Linked DNA regions of Homo sapiens: region 2 is linked to region 1. The links come from fine-mapping of genetic effects on gene expression. A gene starts in region 1. The other region holds a variant in brackets. All regions are shown on one strand. Distances are between the middles of the regions.

The links. PIP is the estimated chance that this variant, and not a neighbour inherited with it, causes the effect.
Region 2: its variant is fine-mapped to the expression of CPEB4 in whole blood (TOPMed, PIP above 0.99).

Annotation. Positions count from the first base shown.
Region 1 is chr5:173,884,363-173,892,362 of GRCh38, reverse strand. CPEB4 (cytoplasmic polyadenylation element binding protein 4) reads right to left here and starts at 4,014. Exons shown (of 10, transcript NM_030627.4): 1 at 1,505-4,014. The coding sequence starts at 2,629. RefSeq lists a silencer at 1,443-1,737 and enhancers at 1,242-1,741, 1,742-2,243, 4,268-4,507, 7,474-7,723.
Region 2 is chr5:173,771,933-173,782,271 of GRCh38, reverse strand. It overlaps LOC107986482 (a long non-coding RNA gene), which reads right to left and starts at 3,996. Exons shown (of 2, transcript XR_001743004.2): 1 at 3,831-3,996. LOC124901138 (a long non-coding RNA gene) reads left to right here and starts at 9,815. Exons shown (of 2, transcript XR_007059060.1): 1 at 9,815-10,318. RefSeq lists a cis regulatory region at 1-9 and enhancers at 1-76, 3,207-3,426, 3,252-3,546, 3,303-4,502, 9,993-10,339. The variant A/G (reference allele first, on the strand shown) is at 4,050.

The DNA of each region.
Region 1 (8,000 bases):
AAGCACAGTAATTGATCTTTGGTTTTAACAACTGAAACCCTTTAAAGCAAATGCCAACAGCTTTTTGATAGGCAAAAAAAAAAAAAAATCGTTTTTAGAAGTCGAAAACTAAATATACCCACATATTTTAAGATGCACTGCACCTGAATCCTTAGGAAAGGAATGACATAGGGTTCTCTTAGCAAACTTCCCCTCCCTCTCAGTCAATTACTAATTAAAACAGATAATTCTGCTAGGGCTAACATCGTATTTGGGAACAGTGCAATGATTCTATAATCTGTTTCAGCCTTTGCAGAAATATTTCTAAAGTAACCCTCTAGCTGTAGCACATGTGTACGTGCACACATGTATGTATACATATTTTCAATCCTTGGGTTTGTTTTTTTTTTTAACTTAGAATTTGTACTCTGACCAGCTGTGTACCCTTGGCTAAGTTATTATATATTTCTCATATTCAATTTCTGCATCTGTAAAATGGGGATAATAACAGAACTCATCTTGTGAGGTTGTTGGGAAAACTAGATTCAATGCTAGATTCTTACCCCTTATAAATTTCCTAAACACATATAATCATACCCTCAAAGTATATACATTTAGTGGAGCATCTGACGTTCAACCACCTATGAAATTCCCTTTATCTAGTTCATATCAACCTAACTTGCTGCTCATTAATTCAAAAACATCAATGACTCTTGCCAGAATAAAGATATTCTGGTAGCAAGAAAGACAAATGATCTTTGCCTGGATCTATTTTTAGGAATGGTTTAATTATCTACATCTTCAATGTTAACATTGGAAAATAAACAAACGGGTGAAAGGCATAAAGAGTCACTCTGAGATGAACAGTTTCACAGTGTTCAAAAATAAATGGGGATGAAGAAAACATTTAGATCATTTCTCTCACTAGATAGTCCTTACTGATGAAAGGTAGGCCAAAATTTGCAGAGGTTTAAGAGGAATTGCCAAGTCCATCAATTCAGGCTGTTCAGACCTACAAGGTTCAGAGAGTTTCCAGGTTTAAAATGCAACCAACCAGTGAGAAAACTGTAATTCAATAGCTGGTTTTCAGTGAATCACTACCTTATAGTGTCAAAAGAAATTTGTTTAGTTATATAGTTACTTCAGAAAACATTCAATAGTTTCTGCAATGAAATATATTTATATCTATATATTATTTATTCTCATCTAAATAGGGAAAAAACTGACCCTGATTCTCATGTCAGGCAAGAAAGGTATTATAGTTAATAATTACTACATCACCAGCTACCAGGTATTCATAATTATCTATGACAAGATTAAGGCTACAATTTAGAAAACTGCCAAAGAAACAGCTGAATATTTTGTTCCAATTACACTCCTGCTAAAATAAAGTCTGGTTATTGATTCATTTTCTCTCTAAGAAAAGCTCTGATGTGAATACGGGCACTTCAAACTCTAGTTACATAGATATTACACCATGCTATTTCCTTATTCATCCTAATCTATTAATGGAACATAATCTTACCGGAAAAGGAAAAATGTTGTCAGCCCTGTTCAAGCTATCTTCCATCCAGGATTTAGGTGCAAAGGCAGAGCTGGGGCGAGCATACTTCTGGAGCTGAATATGATTGCTTGCAAAATTTTTCTTCAAAGGCGAGATGGAGTTCAGGGGCGTTATTCCACCATTCAGCCCTCTGCGGTGATCTCGGCCTTGGGAACCTCCCCAGCCACCATATCCACCACCGCCCGGGCTCCAGGAAGAGGAGGGTGTTGGTGACGGACTCTGGTAGCTGCTCCACGGAGAGGGGGGTTTGTTAAGATTATTCGCCAAATGAGGCAGCTGGTTAAAAGCAGCATTTCTATGTGTGAAGGGTGGGGGATGGGGACTGGCAGGAGACCTCCTTTGCTGCTGATGCTGGCTGTGATGATGCTGGAAATGAGGGTGATGTGGGTGGTGCTGTGAGAGAGGCCCGATCTGAGGAGAGAAGCTGCCTCCAAAGCCAGGGCTGACATGATGGGGGAAATTTTGAAACAACAGAGCACCGTTATTAGCCGAAGCAGCAGGGACCCCTCCCTGGTGAAAGAAACTTGCATCTTCATTGATTATTGTAGAGGAGGAAGGCGCTATCGCTGCTGACCAGTTACTGAAACCAGTAAGAGACGATGCGCTAGATGTCAAGGGTTGGGTTGAAGTACCTAGCCCAGTGGCTTCTTGATAATCAAACCCTGTCAACACTGGAGATTCGATCCTTATTTTCTCCTTCCCATTGCCATTTTCCGAAGAATTGTCCCCTTGATTTTCTTCTGATTTTGCCTTCTCTGTTTCAGGCAGTATTCCAGCTTCCTGACCTGGACTTGGGGAAAGCTGCTGCTTTTCTAAGGGGTCTTGCTGTTCCTGTTGCTGACTTTTTGCTTTTTCTGACCCCAAGATCTCATCCTGAATGTTATGGGTAGCTGGAGCAGGAAAAAGCCAAGCTGACCCAGCACTGCTGCCATTGGCAGCTGTGTTATTATTTATAAAAGCAGCAGGGCTGGGGGTGGCATTTTGGTGATGGTGTGGAGGCTGCAGATGTGGATGGAATCTGACTGGAAAAGCAGATTTATTCCCAGTATTGCTTTGCACTAGCACTCCAAACCCGTAATCCCCCATTTATTATCTTTAGGAGCAGAATCTCACAATAAAAAATGACAACCTGATGTCTCACGCCTTTTTTTTCCTCTACCCCAAATTTAAGTTGTTTGCTTGCTTGCTTGAAATGTCTTATTTATAGCTAGCTCAAAGATCGCAGCTTATCACCTTAAATTGTTCTGATTTGGAATTCTGGTCTCTGAAAGAAAAAACAACTCTTAAAAAAATCTCTTAAAACATTGACTTGGATCCAATTGGGCTTATTTTTAGGAGGGAATAAAAATGAAGAGGGTAAAAATCAAGTCTTTGGTTAGTAAAATAGGCGCTTTCTTTTTCCAAAGGAAAATGTACATGAATGACAAAAACAGAGCTTCTCAAGCATCTATGGATGTAGAAGAATAAGCCTTGCGCGGAGTAAAAATATAGATATATATAATTTAACAATCACATATGGTTTTCCTCAGCAGTTTAGATTCACTCACATAAAAATTAGAATAGGACTAAGAGGGGAATACGTTCTTTTCTTGGCAGCTTGGTTAAAAAAAAATCAGGAATAATTTAAGAACATTATATATTATATATTTATATATATAGATTATATTAGGTTATCTGGGGTGGGAAGTGAATTCCTGGTTTCGGGAGAGGAAATCAGCATTGACTAATGGAAAGATGATTGCAGGGAGGTTTCTGCTGTTCCTGGTCCTGTTTTCTGCTCTTTCGCAGGGTGCAGTTTTGGCCTCTGGGGCTGTTCCTGAGGCTCCGGGTGCAGATCTTGCTGCGGTCGCTGTTCCTGGGCTCCCCGCGGCTTCCTCTCCCCCATGAAAGGGGTTGGAAACACCCGTTTCTCCCTCTTGCGGGGGTCGCGATCAGGAGGGATTAGCGAGACTCGACGAGGGTGAGCGGGCGGCCTGGGGGTGCGGGGACCGAGGGGGCGACCTGGAAGGTCCTGCGGTTTCTGCCTCTTCCCCTCTCTGCGGCTCCGGGGTTTTTTTCCCTCATGGGACCCAGGGGCGGTTTGTTCAGTTCCCTCAGTTCGATTCTCCGCAGAGAGGGAAAAAAGAGGAAAAAAAGGAAAAACCCACTACCGTAGTTATTTTAAAGGAGAAGGGCCTCCCCCCTCGGCTTTCTCTCTCTTTTCCCCCAGAATTTTTTTTTAAACTATAATTTAGAAGGCTTTTGTTTCTCCTCACGGTTGCTGGGCCGTCGCCGCCGTCGCCGCTTTACCCTGGTCCCGCAGTCCCCGCTGTCGTTGTTGAGGACTCCTCCTGGTTCTTCTTTTTCTTTCCTTCTTCCTCCTCTTCCTCCTCTGCTGTCGCCGCTGCTGCCGCCGCCGCCGCCGCCACCGCCTCCCGGTGCCCGGGTCCCGCAGCCGCGGCTGAGTCCTTCTCCTCAGGACCGAGCCGAGTGAAATGACAACCAGCTGGAAAGACCCAGAGACACTTCCGGTTCGAAGAGGGAGGGGTGGGGGTAGCACTCATTCCCCACCTACCTGCCGGAAGACCAATCATCTGTTAGAACTCAGGCGAGGCCACGCCCCCTCGCTTCAGAGCTACTCCCAGGAAGGTCGAAAAGTTACCTCCAGAGACGCCTCTTCCGTCTGCGCCTCGCCTAGTGAGGCCCGGCGCCTGGAACCCGCTTCCCCCACCCAGAGTGAGCGCAGCAGGTCGCCATCTTTTGTGTGGGCAAGGGACTCCTTTGATATTTCTCTTCCCTAACTGGGCTTTGCAGGAGGAGCAATAGGGACGTGTCAAGGAGAACGGATTCCTCGCTCACGAAGGCATACGGTCAAGGTGTTGGAGATCGAAGTGGCGGCCCGTGAAACCGCGGATGAATGAGAAGGGTGCCCACAGTAAAGGTGGTGCTCCAAGCATCACGTGCTCTGGCCCGAGCTCCGCCCCAGAGGGATCTGGAAGGGGAGGCGGGTCTTGCCAGCAGCTGTGCGGTGCCTAGAACTGCGTTTGCCCTTGCCCAGAATGTAGACCTCACGAGGGACTCTCCCTTAACCTTCCATTCGCTCACCCGCACCTCCCACTCTCCCATTCTGCTAGGCTCGCATCTGGTGCAGTCTCCCAGGTGCAGAGATGCAGCTGAGGCGTCTGTGGCTATGCCCCCGTATCATCCCGATCTAGTACACCTTACACGCAATACCAGAGGGAAAATTCCAAAACTAAAATTTTATCTTGACCCTCACATGCTCCGATTTCTTCTATGGTTGCCCATTATTTCGAAGATAAAGGCCAAACTTGTTAGTCTGGTATTCAAGCCTTTCTACCTAATGGGTGGTATATCTTAGTGCCTCTTCCCCCTCCAAACACACTCTCAATGCCTTTTTACATGTCCTTTCCACTCTTCTCCTTTGGTAAATTCCTATTTATTTCTAGGAATCAGTTCAAAAGCCACCAACAGCATCTTCTGAATTCTCTCTTATAAGCGTCCACGGCCCTGTGTACCTCTCGTGCTTGTTTCTCACACTATATTGTGATGGTTTATGTCTTCCAGACCTGTGCTGGACCGTGGGCTCTTTCAGGAGCAGACATTGTAGATAGGAGACATCAGTGAATGAATCCTGAAAACGTGAATGAACAAACCAGCAACAATGAAGTCTTCCCTGAGTGACAGCCCCCCAACCCACTGCCACCCCTTCCACCCGTCACCCACCCCCCACCCCTCACTCCTGTTTCCAAGTCTGAATTAATTATTTCCTTCCTTTTGCCATTTGGTTTGGAGCTCACATATCAGACTTTTCATTATGTTTGGTACTCAAGGGCTTTAATGTCCTGTTTATCTTTGTACATTCCCAACGCTATGACCACCATCAGGGCTTAGGATAATGCTTTGCTCTCAGCACAGCTTTAAATATGTTAAATAAGTGAGTATTTTCCTTTAGCAGGAAGAAAAATGAACAAAGAAATCAGGGTAGAGCCAGAAGTAACTGGCACAACTAGAGGGAAAAAAAAGATACCAAGATTAATGAAAAATAGTATGAACAAAGGTGGCTTCCATTTCATTTCCATAGCCTTCCTCTAATGGTCTCAACTTCTGCCTCAGTCTGTCAATCCTCCATCACTTCCGTGTAGAACACCTGAGGGCCTTCAATCGGTGATTTTATTCTCTTTCATTGTGCCATGAGCATGAGTCTTGTCTCTGTAACTCTACTATGGATTCTTTGAGCATAGAGATTGGGTCTTACCTGCTGTTTATTCCCTACAACTGGACATGCCTGGAAACTTAGCTGGTTCCGTCAGGTGTCTTTTCCGCCAGAATGGTTTCCTTGACTGGCCCTCTCTCTAATGTCTTGTAGATTGCTCTCTTTTAATTACTGCTGGTTGTCAGTGGGTTAGTTTCTTAAGGGCAGAGGTTGTGTCTGATTTATCTTTATGTCCCCAGTGGCCAGAAGAGGGTCTGGCACAGAGCAGACTCAAAACTCAGAACACATTTATTGAATGAACAAATGAATGTTCCATGCCCAGAAGATGGTTTAGGGTCCCTCAGAGCTACTAATTATCAGTGGCTAAAATGGCAGCCATGACTTGGAAAAAAGAGCACCTTTGGAACCAAACAGCCCTGAATTTGAATCCCAGCTCTGCTGCTTCCTAGCTGTGCAAAACTGGGCATCACCTCTATAAGCCCTTGGTTCCTTCTAGATAAAATGTGAATGATATTTCCTCTCTTGCTAAGTTTGTAAATTACATGGGATACATGTGAAGTGCTGGACTCCTAAAAAGTTTTATTAGTCCATTTTCACACTGCTATAAAGAAATGCCCAAGACTGGGTAATTTATAAAGGAAAGAGGTTTAATTGACTCACAGTTCCACGTGACTGGGGAAGCCTCAGGAAACTTACAATCATGCCGGAAGGCGAAGGGGAAGCAAGCACTTTCTTCACAAGGCGGCAGGAGAGACCAGAGTGAAAGAAGAACTGTCAAACACTTATAAAACCATCAGAGCTCATGAGAACTCACTATCAGGAGAACAGCATGGGGAAACTGCCCCCTTGATCCAATCACCTCCCTCTGTCTACACATAAGGATTACAATTTGAGATAAGAGTTGGGTGGGGACACAGAGCCAAACCATATCAGAGGTGATCAAAAATGTCACTTCCTTTGTAACACATTAAATGCAGGGAATTCCTTCACAAGTGTCTTTTGCCTAGAAGCAGCTGTGTGCACAAGGGAATCCAGGAACTTGTCTTGGTTGATAAAAGGTGGAGACGCCCAGGGCCACAGTCAGGTGCTGCCAAGTCGGGCTAATCTTTTAAGGCTAAGTCAGGTGTGGGCAGTAGATTGGGATGGTTTGCAGCTAGGATGATCACTAAGACATCAGACTCTTGCTTAGGGACTGGAAGTATGGAAGAAGGAAGGGGGAAATCTATTATTTTCTTTTCTTTTTTCTTTTTTTTTTTTGGCATCAGTTGCCTACTCAGGAACCCAGGATACCCAGAGCCCAGGGCTGCGCTCCTTGAAAACATTCTGGCCTCAGAAACTTCCCATGGTAACCATGACAACAATTCAGCAGCTCCATTTAGGATCTCCAAAAGGATCTACAGATGTAGGTGAGTGCTGGCTTGAGCACTCTGCTGGCAGAAGAGAGCCTTTTTCATGAAGTGTGCTCACCAGAAAGTTTTTGGGTTGCAGGGGAAGCAAGTTCTGCCCAAACATTAAGGTGCTACTAGTTAAAAAAAAAAAAAAATTAAAAAGCTCTATCCCTGTCTAGTACAATGAGGGCTAACACACCTTCAGAGAAGTTGTAGGCTGGGGAATGCCTGTAACCTGGTAGCTACTGCCCAGCCCCCTCTGGGGTTTGAGGTCAACCACACCCAGAACCTAGAGCCTTCCAGGAAGCAGGGCATTAATATCTCCTTCACCAGCCTCTTTTAAAGCTCGGCAAGCAGTAGAAATCTCACCCCATAATCACACAAGGTGAACTCTGCCCCAGTCCAGCTCTAATGTCTCCCACCACTTTCCTTGAAGCATGCATTGTCAGCCTTCTCCCAATAGCCCACACCCGAGCTCCCCAGAGGCTTGTCTAATGACCAAAAATCAGGACCACTACCCAAGGCTGCCCTGGTTGTGCACTGTGCAACTTCATAAGGCACCACAGACTAGTATGTGAATGCATCCAATGGAGTTGTACAAGGCAGCAGCCCTGTTTCAGTTCTTTTTTTCTAAGACACAGGGGCACATTATACAAATATGACACACATACAAAAAAAGCTCATTACATGAGCCATGCTTATTGCCTGCAGAAATATTTAAAGCACTTGATCCTTTTAGAGTTAGCAGCCCAGGAACTTTCTGTAATTGAATTGAAGGACACTGTGTCCTTGGTATTGGTTTTGGTTAGTGAGCTGTAGTGAGAAGACAAGTCTGGACAAGTATATGGTCCAGGCC
Region 2 (10,339 bases), 110 kb after region 1:
CTGAGTCACAGGGCCCAGAGAAAAACAAGAACATCGTGACGTCAGAGCAGGGGTGGGGAGAAATCTCCCTCGAGATCTCCGTGGGCACCGGAAATAGAAACTGCTCCCTTTGAAGCATCTATTAGAAGATCCAAGTCTCTAACAGATCACCATGAGATTTCAATTCAGTTCCTATTAAGCACCAACTGAACGCATGTGAGAATGTCAGGGAATCAGTTGGTGAAGAGGCAACCGTTTTAATTTAATTTTATTTATTTGAACAGAGTAAGCCTCTGTTCAATCCTGACTCATCTTCTTTCTTCTCTTACTACCCATTTGCCCTTGAGCAGTTCACTTAAACTTTCTGACCCCATTTCCTCTTCAGTAATAATAATTCTTGTCTCATTGAGATAGTGTGAGGGCTTAAAGGGAATTACATTTTTCAAAAGCATCTTGCACAGATCTGGCACAGTCAGTGGTAGGTCTTCTTAGCATAAGGATATAAAAAGATCTTTCTGTAAGGTTGGTGTGGGGATTAAATTGGATGACATATCTTTACTTTCAAGCAAGCTCTGGACTGAGCTCTTACTAAGGTTTCAGCTAAGGAGAGAGATTTCTTTCCTCCTCTCTAGACACTGGGGTAACTGGTTCTGGTCCCCCAGTGTTCTGGTTAGTAGAACTAAATACGTACACGCACAATGAATGTTTACACAACATCCGCTCATTCCATTCCACAAATATTTCTTTTAACATTGTACACATTACTGGCTCAGCCTTTGTAGAGGTCTAGAAAAACAAAATTAGGATGAATATCCCCATTTTGTTGCTGTTTTTTGTTTTTGTTTTTGTTTTTTAAGACGGAGTTTCACTCTGTCACCGAGGCTGAAGTGCAGTGGTGCCATCTCGGCTCACTGCAAGCTCCACGTCTCGGGTTCAAGCAATTCTCCTGCCTCAGCCTCCCAAATAGCTGGGACCACAGGGGCACACCATCTCGGGTGGCTAATTTTTTGTATTTTAGTAGAGACGATGTTTCACCATGTTGCCAAAGCTAATCACGAACTCCTGAGCTTAGGCAATCTGCCCGCCTCAGCCTCCCAAAGTGCTGGGATTGCAGGCATGAGCCACCGCTCCCGGCCTGCTGCTGATTTTTTAATAATCATTCTGTGGGAGGCACTATGCTAAGTATTTTGCATGCATCGAATTCTTGGAGCAATCTTTTCAAATTCGTGCTATAGTAACCCCCATTTTATAGATGGAGCAACTGAGGCTCAGTAGAGTTGACTGTGCTGCCCAAATGCACAGAACTAGTGGGTGGCAGAGTTGAGGCTCAATCCCAGCCCTGATTATCTCAAAGGTTCTGACTGTCACACTATGCGTGAGCTCCCAGAGAGAGAAAAACACTCAGTTGAAAATTTAGAGTTACTCATGCACAAAGGTATATAAACAACACAAAGTGGTTAGATGGGCAAATGCTGACGGAGAGGCTGGTAATCAGAGTTATGGGCAGTTCTGGGCTGGGAGATCTCCCTGAGAGCTGTACTATGAAAAGGGGCTTTCTAGAAGGTGAAAGTTTAGGTGGGGAGTAAAGCTAGACCTTGAAAAATGATGTGGAACAGGTAACAAAGCAAAGGCACGTTGAGCAGAGGCCCAGATGGTTTGGCCAAATATGGGCTGAGCTTAGTGAAGGTCAGGTAACCAAGGCAAGGTGTGCTTTGGAGAACAAAAGGAGGAAGGTTGAGCTGGCACAGTCTGGCTGGCTGGTATTAGCTTCTTGAATGATAAGCTCTTCAGCCTGGCTGGGGTGACTTCTAACTTCGGAACATCACTGCTTAGGGGATTCCTGTGTATCACACATTGGGCCTGAGCAGCAGAGCTAGGAGTTGTTCCTGTTATTGGAAAGGGAGGAAGTTTCTGCAGAGTAAGTGGGCATGATCTGTCTTGCTGGAGGGCCTCAACCTTTACTCTCCTGGGTAAGAGGAGACAATGATATTTCCATGGTCTTCAGAGCATTCTGCTGAGAAGCCCACAAGCTAAGGGCCATTACAGCAAACTCAGAGATGATACAACCTTTCTGCAGACCATGGTAATATATATGAAGAGGATTAAAACGATGTAACCCTTTGTTCCCTCAATTTTACTGCTAGGAATTAATCCAAGGGAAGTGGTCATGGAGAGATGAGAAAATGTGTGTATGGACAAAGATGGTCACTGTAGAATGTAGTATTAACTTACAAACACAAGAATCAGAAATGTCCCACCTAGTCAGTAATGGGGGCTTAGTTAAAAATTATGATCCAGGCCGGGTGCAGTGGCTCATGGCTGTAATCCCAGCACTTTTGGAGGCTGAGGCAGGCAGATCACCTGAGGTCAGGAATTCGAGCCAATATGGTGAAACCCCGTCTCTACAAAAATTAGCCTGGCATGATGGTGTGTGCCTATAATCCCAGCTATTCAGGAGGCTGAGGCACAAGAATCACTTGAACCTGGGAGGCAGAGGTTGCAGTGAGCAGAGATCGTGCCACTGCACTCCAGCCTGGGTGATAGAGTGAGATTCAGTCTCAAAAAAAAAAAAAAAAAGAAAAGAAAAGAAATTTTGATCCACCCATACAAGGGAATGCTACACTTCCATTCAAAGTCAAGGTGGTCACACCATAGCAGGGAAAAATCAGTTATAAAAACATTAAATATAGTATGATCCTAGCTCACAAGTACATTAATCCAATTCATTCACTTATTAACTATGTAATGAAGATGTGCTGTATGCCAAGCACCATTCTGGGTACTGGGAATATGGACAGGAACAAGCTCAGGGTGGGAAGTTGTTTAGGGAAAGACAGGTAATACATATATGGACTTAAGAATACACAAGATAATTTCTGAGCATGGCACACAATGCCATGAAGAAAGGCATGCAAGATGGACTAGTTTAGTGTGCGTGAAGATGGAGGGACTATCCAAGGAGGTGACATTTCGGCCATGACTTGCACGCTGAAAAAAAAAAAATCCAGTCATGATTTCCAGAGTCATGAAATCCAGAGCATTTCAGGCAAAGAGGCGAAGGCCTTGAGGGGAAATGCCATTGGTGTATTAGGAGGGAAAAAGAAAGAGAAATAATGTGTGAGTAGAGAGAGAAGAGGTAGGAGAGGCAAGCAGGGCCAGATCACACAGACTGAAAGTCAAGGTGAAGTGTTGATAAGGAGTGTGGATTTCCTTCCAAGTGCTGTAGAAAGCTACCGGGTTCTATGTAGGCAATCATCATACAGTTGACCTTCAAACAACACAGGTTTGAACTGCACAGGTCCACTTACAGGTGACTTTTCTTCCACCTCTGCCACCCCTGAGAGAGCAGGACCAACCACTCCTTTTCCTCCTCCTCAGCCTACTCGAGTTGATGATGACAAGGGTGAAGACCTTTATGCTGAGTCACTTCTGCGTAGTGAACGTAAATATACTTTCTCTTCCTTATGATTTTCTCAATAACATTTTCTTTACTCTAGCTTCCTTTATTGTAAGAATACAGTATACAATACATATAACATACAAAATATGTTAATTGACTGTTTATGTTCTCAGCAAGGCTTGCAGTCAACAGTAGGCTATCTGTAGTGTTTTGGGGAGTCAAAAGTTGTATGCAGATTTTCAACTCTGAGGGGGGTCAACACCCCAACTTCCATATCGTTCAGGGTTCAACTCTCTTTATGTATCCGGAAGGAAATACACCAACAGGTTAGTAGAGATTATTAACAAGTAGTGGGGTAATAAACCGTGTTTAAAAATCTGTGTGCTATTCTGTAACTCCTGAACTTTTGTAATTAGAAACAAACAGTAATTTCCATTTTTAAAGAACTCACCAGAGAGCAACATCGACAGATGACAACCATCACCTGGAGCTCCAGTTTGAAGAGGCTTTTCCCTGAGCAATCTCTTTTGATTTTCACGATAACCCTGTGAGTGAAGCCAGACCATTGTCATTAAGACCTCCATTTTGGAGGTGAGGCAATTGAGGCCGGGAGTTGCAAAGAGGCTGAGGCAGGAAATGACAAAACTGGGACAGGAATCAAGGTTCCACA[A/G]CACTGGTCTAAGCTTCCTGATTTTGTGGCCCAGCCAGGCTAATGGCTGAGTCTGCATCAAATTCACCCAGAGACCCCAGGGCCCTAACAGGAAGTCTACAAGGTTACTCTCCTGCTTCGGGGAGGGCAGGGATGGACCTAGAGCCCCCAGCTGCCGATGACTGGAACAAAAAGAGGGTCTTTCCCACATAGTAGATGCTCAACAAACATTTGTTGAATTAATGCAATAGCTTGCTTTTGGGGGAAATGCCACCTTGGGGAGGATGGTTTTGCTGACTTTACAATTTAGTAGCTGTGCATCCTCCTCTGTCACTCCCCTCCACAAAGTTGGAGTGTAGGCTCTGGAGCCGGAATGTCTGGGCTTGAATCTGCCTCTACCACTGACCACCAGCTGTGACCTACCCTTTCCACCTCAGTTTTCTGATCTGTAAAGTGGGAGTAATAATGATGGTCTCCTTGGGTTACTGTTTGGATTAAATGAATGAATGAAGGCTTTGAAGAGATGTTGGCATACAGTGTGTGCTCCATAAGCGTCAGAGGTTACTAGCATCAGCATGAAAGGGCTGTTGAAAGGGTGAGGTGAGGCTCCTGGCAGCACAGGCAGAGCTGAGCAGGGTCTCAATGGGTGATGGCTACCGCGGCTGTCCTTCTACCCCCATGACTCCCCTTGCTGGTGCCTCAGTGGTTATTCACAGGAAACATACAGAAATGCACTGCACATCATTTTTTAGAGAAGGGACACCCCTATCCACCAGAAGGGTCCTTTGCCAAGTCAAATAATAGACCTGTACTCTCTCATCTCAGGAGGTTTCTGTCTGTTCAAGGTCACGTGAAGAATTTCCTGGCACTTTCCAGTGTCTCTGACTCTAATTCATTTAAAGAGCCACCTTTTAAATTTCAGGCTTGACATTTGCTTAATAACATGTGTGGAGCCTGCTCTGGTGAGCGGCCCCAGGGTCACCAGCCCATCCCTCTGTCCTCCACTCCTGCTTTCAAACTTCAATGGTTTAAGGTCTACCGATAATTTTGCTATCACTGCATATCATGTGGTCTAGTCTTTCCCTCATTATTTTTCCTCAACTTGTCTCCCATTTAAAACTTAAAATACATTTCTTCAAAAGGAAAACTTACTACCATAGATGGAAAGCCAATCCCACCTGCTACAAATAGAAGCTATCCAGAAAAAGATATACCACGAAAATAAAATGATATTATGAAACTCTAGAATATTTAATTCTAGAGGAATAGGGTTGCCTGTGGAAGACTCTGGGCTTGAGGCCTGTTTGATTCCCATTTGAAAGGGAGATTTGGAGAGGTGTTAAAGTTTGAGGGAGGCGTTAAAGACCTATTAGTACCAAAGTGAGATTTTCTTCTTGGTGTAATGACAAGGATTGAAAGAGAATTTTCACAGGAGAAAAACTCTCTTACCACAGGATGCAATCTATTTGTTTCCCTGTCTTTTCACTTTCCCCTACTCCCCAGGGGCAAGGGGCTCCCTATTGTATGATTCAGTTCTTTATTGAGAAGAGTTAAAGAGAGAGCAGCCCAGCCCCAGCTTCTTGCTTATTATATCATGCAAATAAGATTCTTTCCCTGCTTTGAAATGAGGGAGCCGAATTAGAGAGATGTTCTTCTCAGAGGATCTCCAGGCCCTGAAAGTCTGCGAGGCCCCATCCAAAAGTTCATTTGGCTGCTGTCTTGGTCATTCCAGGCTGCCATAGCAGAATACCATAGACTGGGTGGCTTATAAACTACAGAAATTTATTCCTCGCAGTTTTGGAGGCTGGAAGTTGAAGATCAGTCACTGGCAGTTTGGAATCTGACGAGGGTCTGCTTTGTGGTTCACAGACAGCTCCTTCTTGCTGTGCCCTCACATGGCAGAAGAGGCCAGGCAGCTCTCTGGGGTCTCTTTCTAAGGGCACTAATCTCATCAATGGGGCTCCACCCTCATGACCTAATCACCTCCCAAAGGCCTCCCTACTAATACCATTGCCTGGGGGTTCACTTTCAATATAAGACTGGGTTGGGGGCAGGCAGACAAAAACACTGTCGATAGCACCTGCACATAAACGTGTTCTCATCCGCTCAGCAACAGAGTTGAAACCTATCAAGAGGATGGCCCCGTGGCATGGGTTGTGTAGCTGAATCTTCCTAAGGAGTAAAGACGTAGGATCCATCACATACCCACAAATAAATTCACGTTTCCTGGGGGTGGATTTTCTGCTTGTTGAACTGAGCAGATGGCTGTGCTTGAGACGAAAAAGGAAGTTGCTAAACCCTCTCTCTGCCCAGTGCAGAATTTGGAAAGAAACAACCAAATAACCCGCTCACTTCAGGTTCTGTCCCCTGTTTCAGTAGCCCCTGCGGATTCCTCCTGCAGTGGTTTCCTTATCAGAGTCCCTGGGAGGCGCTGCCAATGCATCATTCCTAAATTACTATGTTTTCATATCTCCTCCCTTCTCCTAAATCAGAGGGGACCTGCCTCATCTGGGTGCTGCATGCTGGTTTCTTAGCCTGATGCTCAAGACCTCATGCAGTGTGATTTCAACCTACAATCCTATGGCAGCCCTGGCTGCTGGGATTTCCTTCCTTGAATCTTCTGCTTCTGACAAGCTGGTTACCTGGCACACAGCAGGCATGAAGAAATGTTTTTGCATGAAAGAATATGCCTTCTGCTGTGCTGCAGTTTGCCTCCGTTCATCTCAACATATATTCCTTGAGTGACCGGGACAACTGGTGCTTGAAGACTTCCTATATGCCAGACACTGGTAGGGTGGGCACTGCTCCAATTTGCCCTGGACTTTCCTGATTTTAGCCCTGGAAGCCATGTCTCAGAAATCCCCCACCCCACCCCAGGCAAATTGGGACAGTTGGTCTTCCTAATAAATTGGGCTCCATGCATTCTATTTTCATGGGACTTCCAACATAGAGTAGATGACATTAAACAAATTATCCCACAAAGAAATGCATAATTATAAACCATGGCAGGTGCAGAGGAGAAGTCAACCCTGAGCTGGGCACTGTGGATATGAAGAGAAAAAGACACAGTCAGGCCTTGGCAAAGCATCCTGCTTGTAACTAGGAGAGAGAGGGACACACAGCTTATTTAATGTAAAGTGGTGAGCACAGTGAATCAGAAACCTACACTCTCTTATCCCTGTTCACATTATACTGTTTCTATTTTAATTGGGGTTTCAAACATTGGAAACCCACTCTGGTGAATTAAATAGAGGTGTATTGAAAGGGCTTTGGAAGGAAAAGCTGAAAAATAGGCCTTGGAAGAGAGAGAAACAATTGCTTCTTAGGGAGTTGAGATAGTCAAAAAATTATGCCAGAACAAAAGAACATGCTTTGTTCCACTTCCATTAGAAAAACTGACTCTAGCCATTCAATGCCCTTGGGTTTCTCTGGCCAATATCCTGATTCCAGGAAGAAAGTATATGGTGGCCAAGCTTGGGTCTCATGCCAGCCCCTTGGCCAGTCTAGCAGGGCACCATAATTAGAAATTCCACCAAAACCGCGTGCAGCTGGGCATGGGGACAGGCAGTTGCTATGGGCAATGGAGGGGCGGGAGCTGGGAAGGTGAAGGCCACAGCTGCCTGCTCTCTCCTCTTCAAAAAGGGGCCCAGACATTGCCTTCTCCAGCATCTTTTTCACCATGGCCACTGCCCTTGGAGTGCCTCTCTGCTTGCTTTTGGTCCAGAATATTCTGTTACCATGGATAGCATCAGGCTGACAGCTGTTGTGTCTTATCCAGCCACCCGACTATTATCACCTTGGAGCATGTGCTGTGTCCTTGGGCACAGCTAGTACAATGCCTGGCACAGCAAAGGGACTCCATGAATGTTGCTGAGTACTTTCTGGAGAGTTTCACAGAGCAAGTGGCCATGATGATCCTGCCATCCTTCCCTGGCCCATTGCCCTCCAGCCAAACCAGCCTTCTTCCTGGATCTCAAACACTTTGAGCAGCTTTGCAGCCCGCCTGGCTATTCCTTCATCCCATGTTGTCCGCTTTGCCAGTCTCGTGACTCAGGGGTTCTCAACTGGAGGTGGTTTTGCCCTCCAGGGGAACACCTGGCAATGTCTGGGGGCATTTTTTGGTTGTCACCCTGGAAAATGGGATGCTACTGGCATCTCGTGGGTAAAGGCCAAGGATGCGGCTAAACATCTTATAATGCATAGGCCAACCCCCCAACAAAGAGTTATGGGATCCACAATGTCCACAGTGCCAAGGTCGGGAAAGCCTACAGCAAGCCTCAATCCCCTCAGCCCAGAGACCCTCCCGTTCAGGAAGGCTTCCCTGAGCATCGCCCGTTTCTTTCTCTCTTTTTTTTTTCTTCTTTGAGACAGAGTCTCACTCTGTCACCCAGGCTGGAGTGCAGTGGCGCAATCTCGGATCACTGCAAGCTCCGCCTCCTGGGTTCACGCCATTCTCCTGCCTCAGCCTCCCGAGTAGCTGGGACTACAGGCGCCCGCCACCACGTCCGGCTAATTTTTTTTGTACTTTTAGTACAGACGGGGTTTCACCGTGTTAGCCAGGATGGTCTCAATCTCCTGACCTCGTGATCCACCCACCTTGGCCTCCCAAAGTGCTGGGATTACAGGCTTGAGCCACCGCACCCGGCCTCATGCCCCCCACTGTATTTCCTTCATGACACCTTGTCACAGCCTAAAATGATCCTGCCTGCTTGTTCAGTTGCTGACTTGGTGCCTGTCTTGTGGACTAGATCGGTCCTATGAGAGCGACCCCCATGGGCCTTGCTCGTGGGGCGCTCCCCTGCATGGAGAGTGGCACATGGCATATGGCAGGCTGCTCAGTAAAACGTGTTGCAGGAATGTTGAATAAAGAAATATGACCTCAACTTTTCTTTTACTTTACTTTTTTATTTTTTGAGACAAGGTCTCACTATCCACCAGGCTGGAGTACAGTGGTGCAATCATAGCTCACTGCAGCCTCAACCTCCTGGGCTCAAGCGATCTTCCTGTCTCAGCCTCCTGAGTAGTTGGGACTACAGGTGTGCACTACCATGCCTGGCTAATTTAAAAATATATATATATATTTGTAGAGACAGGGTCTCTGAGTCTTTCTATGTTCCCCAGGCTAGTCTTGAACTCCTGGGCTCAAGCAATCCTCCTATCTCAGCCTCCCAAAGTGCTGGAGTTACAGGCATGAGCCATTGTGCCCAGCCTCAACTTTTCAAAGATCAGCAGTCAGAGAGCTCCGCTGTGAAGTCCAGCTTCTTTCAGGCTGGCTATCTTTGTGTGTCTGTGTTCATTTCCGCAGCCAGTTCACATTCAGTCTCTGTTGTTGGCTGGCTGTGTGGGCCTTTGGCAAATTTCTGAAGCCTCCCAGGCCTCAGTCTCTGCATCTCTAAAGTGGGGCTATTATGATCAGCCCCTTCATCACAGAGATGTAGTGGGAAGTAAATAAATGAATCTACAGCACTTAAGAAAATGCCTGACTCAGAAAGGCCTCTGTAAACGTCATCTATCAGCAGCAGCATCATGTTTTGGCTGGGGCAGGCAGTGGGGGCGACAGAACGAGCTCTGGGGCCCTACCAGAAGATTAGGGGATGAACGCAGCTTGCAAGGCCAAAGCTGTCCCCATTTGGTTTTGCCAGCTCTTGCTCATCCATGAAATAAACCGGATGAAGCCTTCATCCAGCCCTTGTTTTGAGAAGGAGGCAAGCAGAGAGCGTGGATTTAATGTGGCAGATGGTGCTGTCCTTGAATTATGAAACCAAAGGAGGAAATTAAAGTGCTCCATTGCAACAGATATGGGCCAGCCGGGGCAGAAGGCAGGAGGTGGGGCAGAAAGGAGGGCAGGAAGGAGGTGCTGTATCAACTGGGCAATGGCTATTTTCAAGGGTAGCTGGAGTCCTAAGATAATAGAATTCCGTAGCCCCATATAATTTTAGAATCTTCATCTTACATAGGCAAATGAGGCTCAGAGAGGGAAAGTGACTGTGAAGGTCACACAGCCAGTTAGTGGCAGAGCAACTCACACGTCCTGATTCCTTGAACAGTATTATTTTCTGCTGCCCCAAGCCAAGGCCAGTGGCAGACCCTGTCTCAGGGCTTCCTGATTTTGGGCAGCTCTGCTTTTCAGAGGACTTCTCTGGACAGGCACCCAGTGTCCAAAGAGAACCCAGGGTCAGGCAGCACAATCCCAGGGGCTTCTCTGCAGCTGCTCTCCTCCCAGCACACAGGGAGATACCAGCCACCGTCCCGGAGCCATTCGGCCTGGGTCTGAAGCCCAGCAACCCGAGGTAAGTTTTTTACTGTCCTGG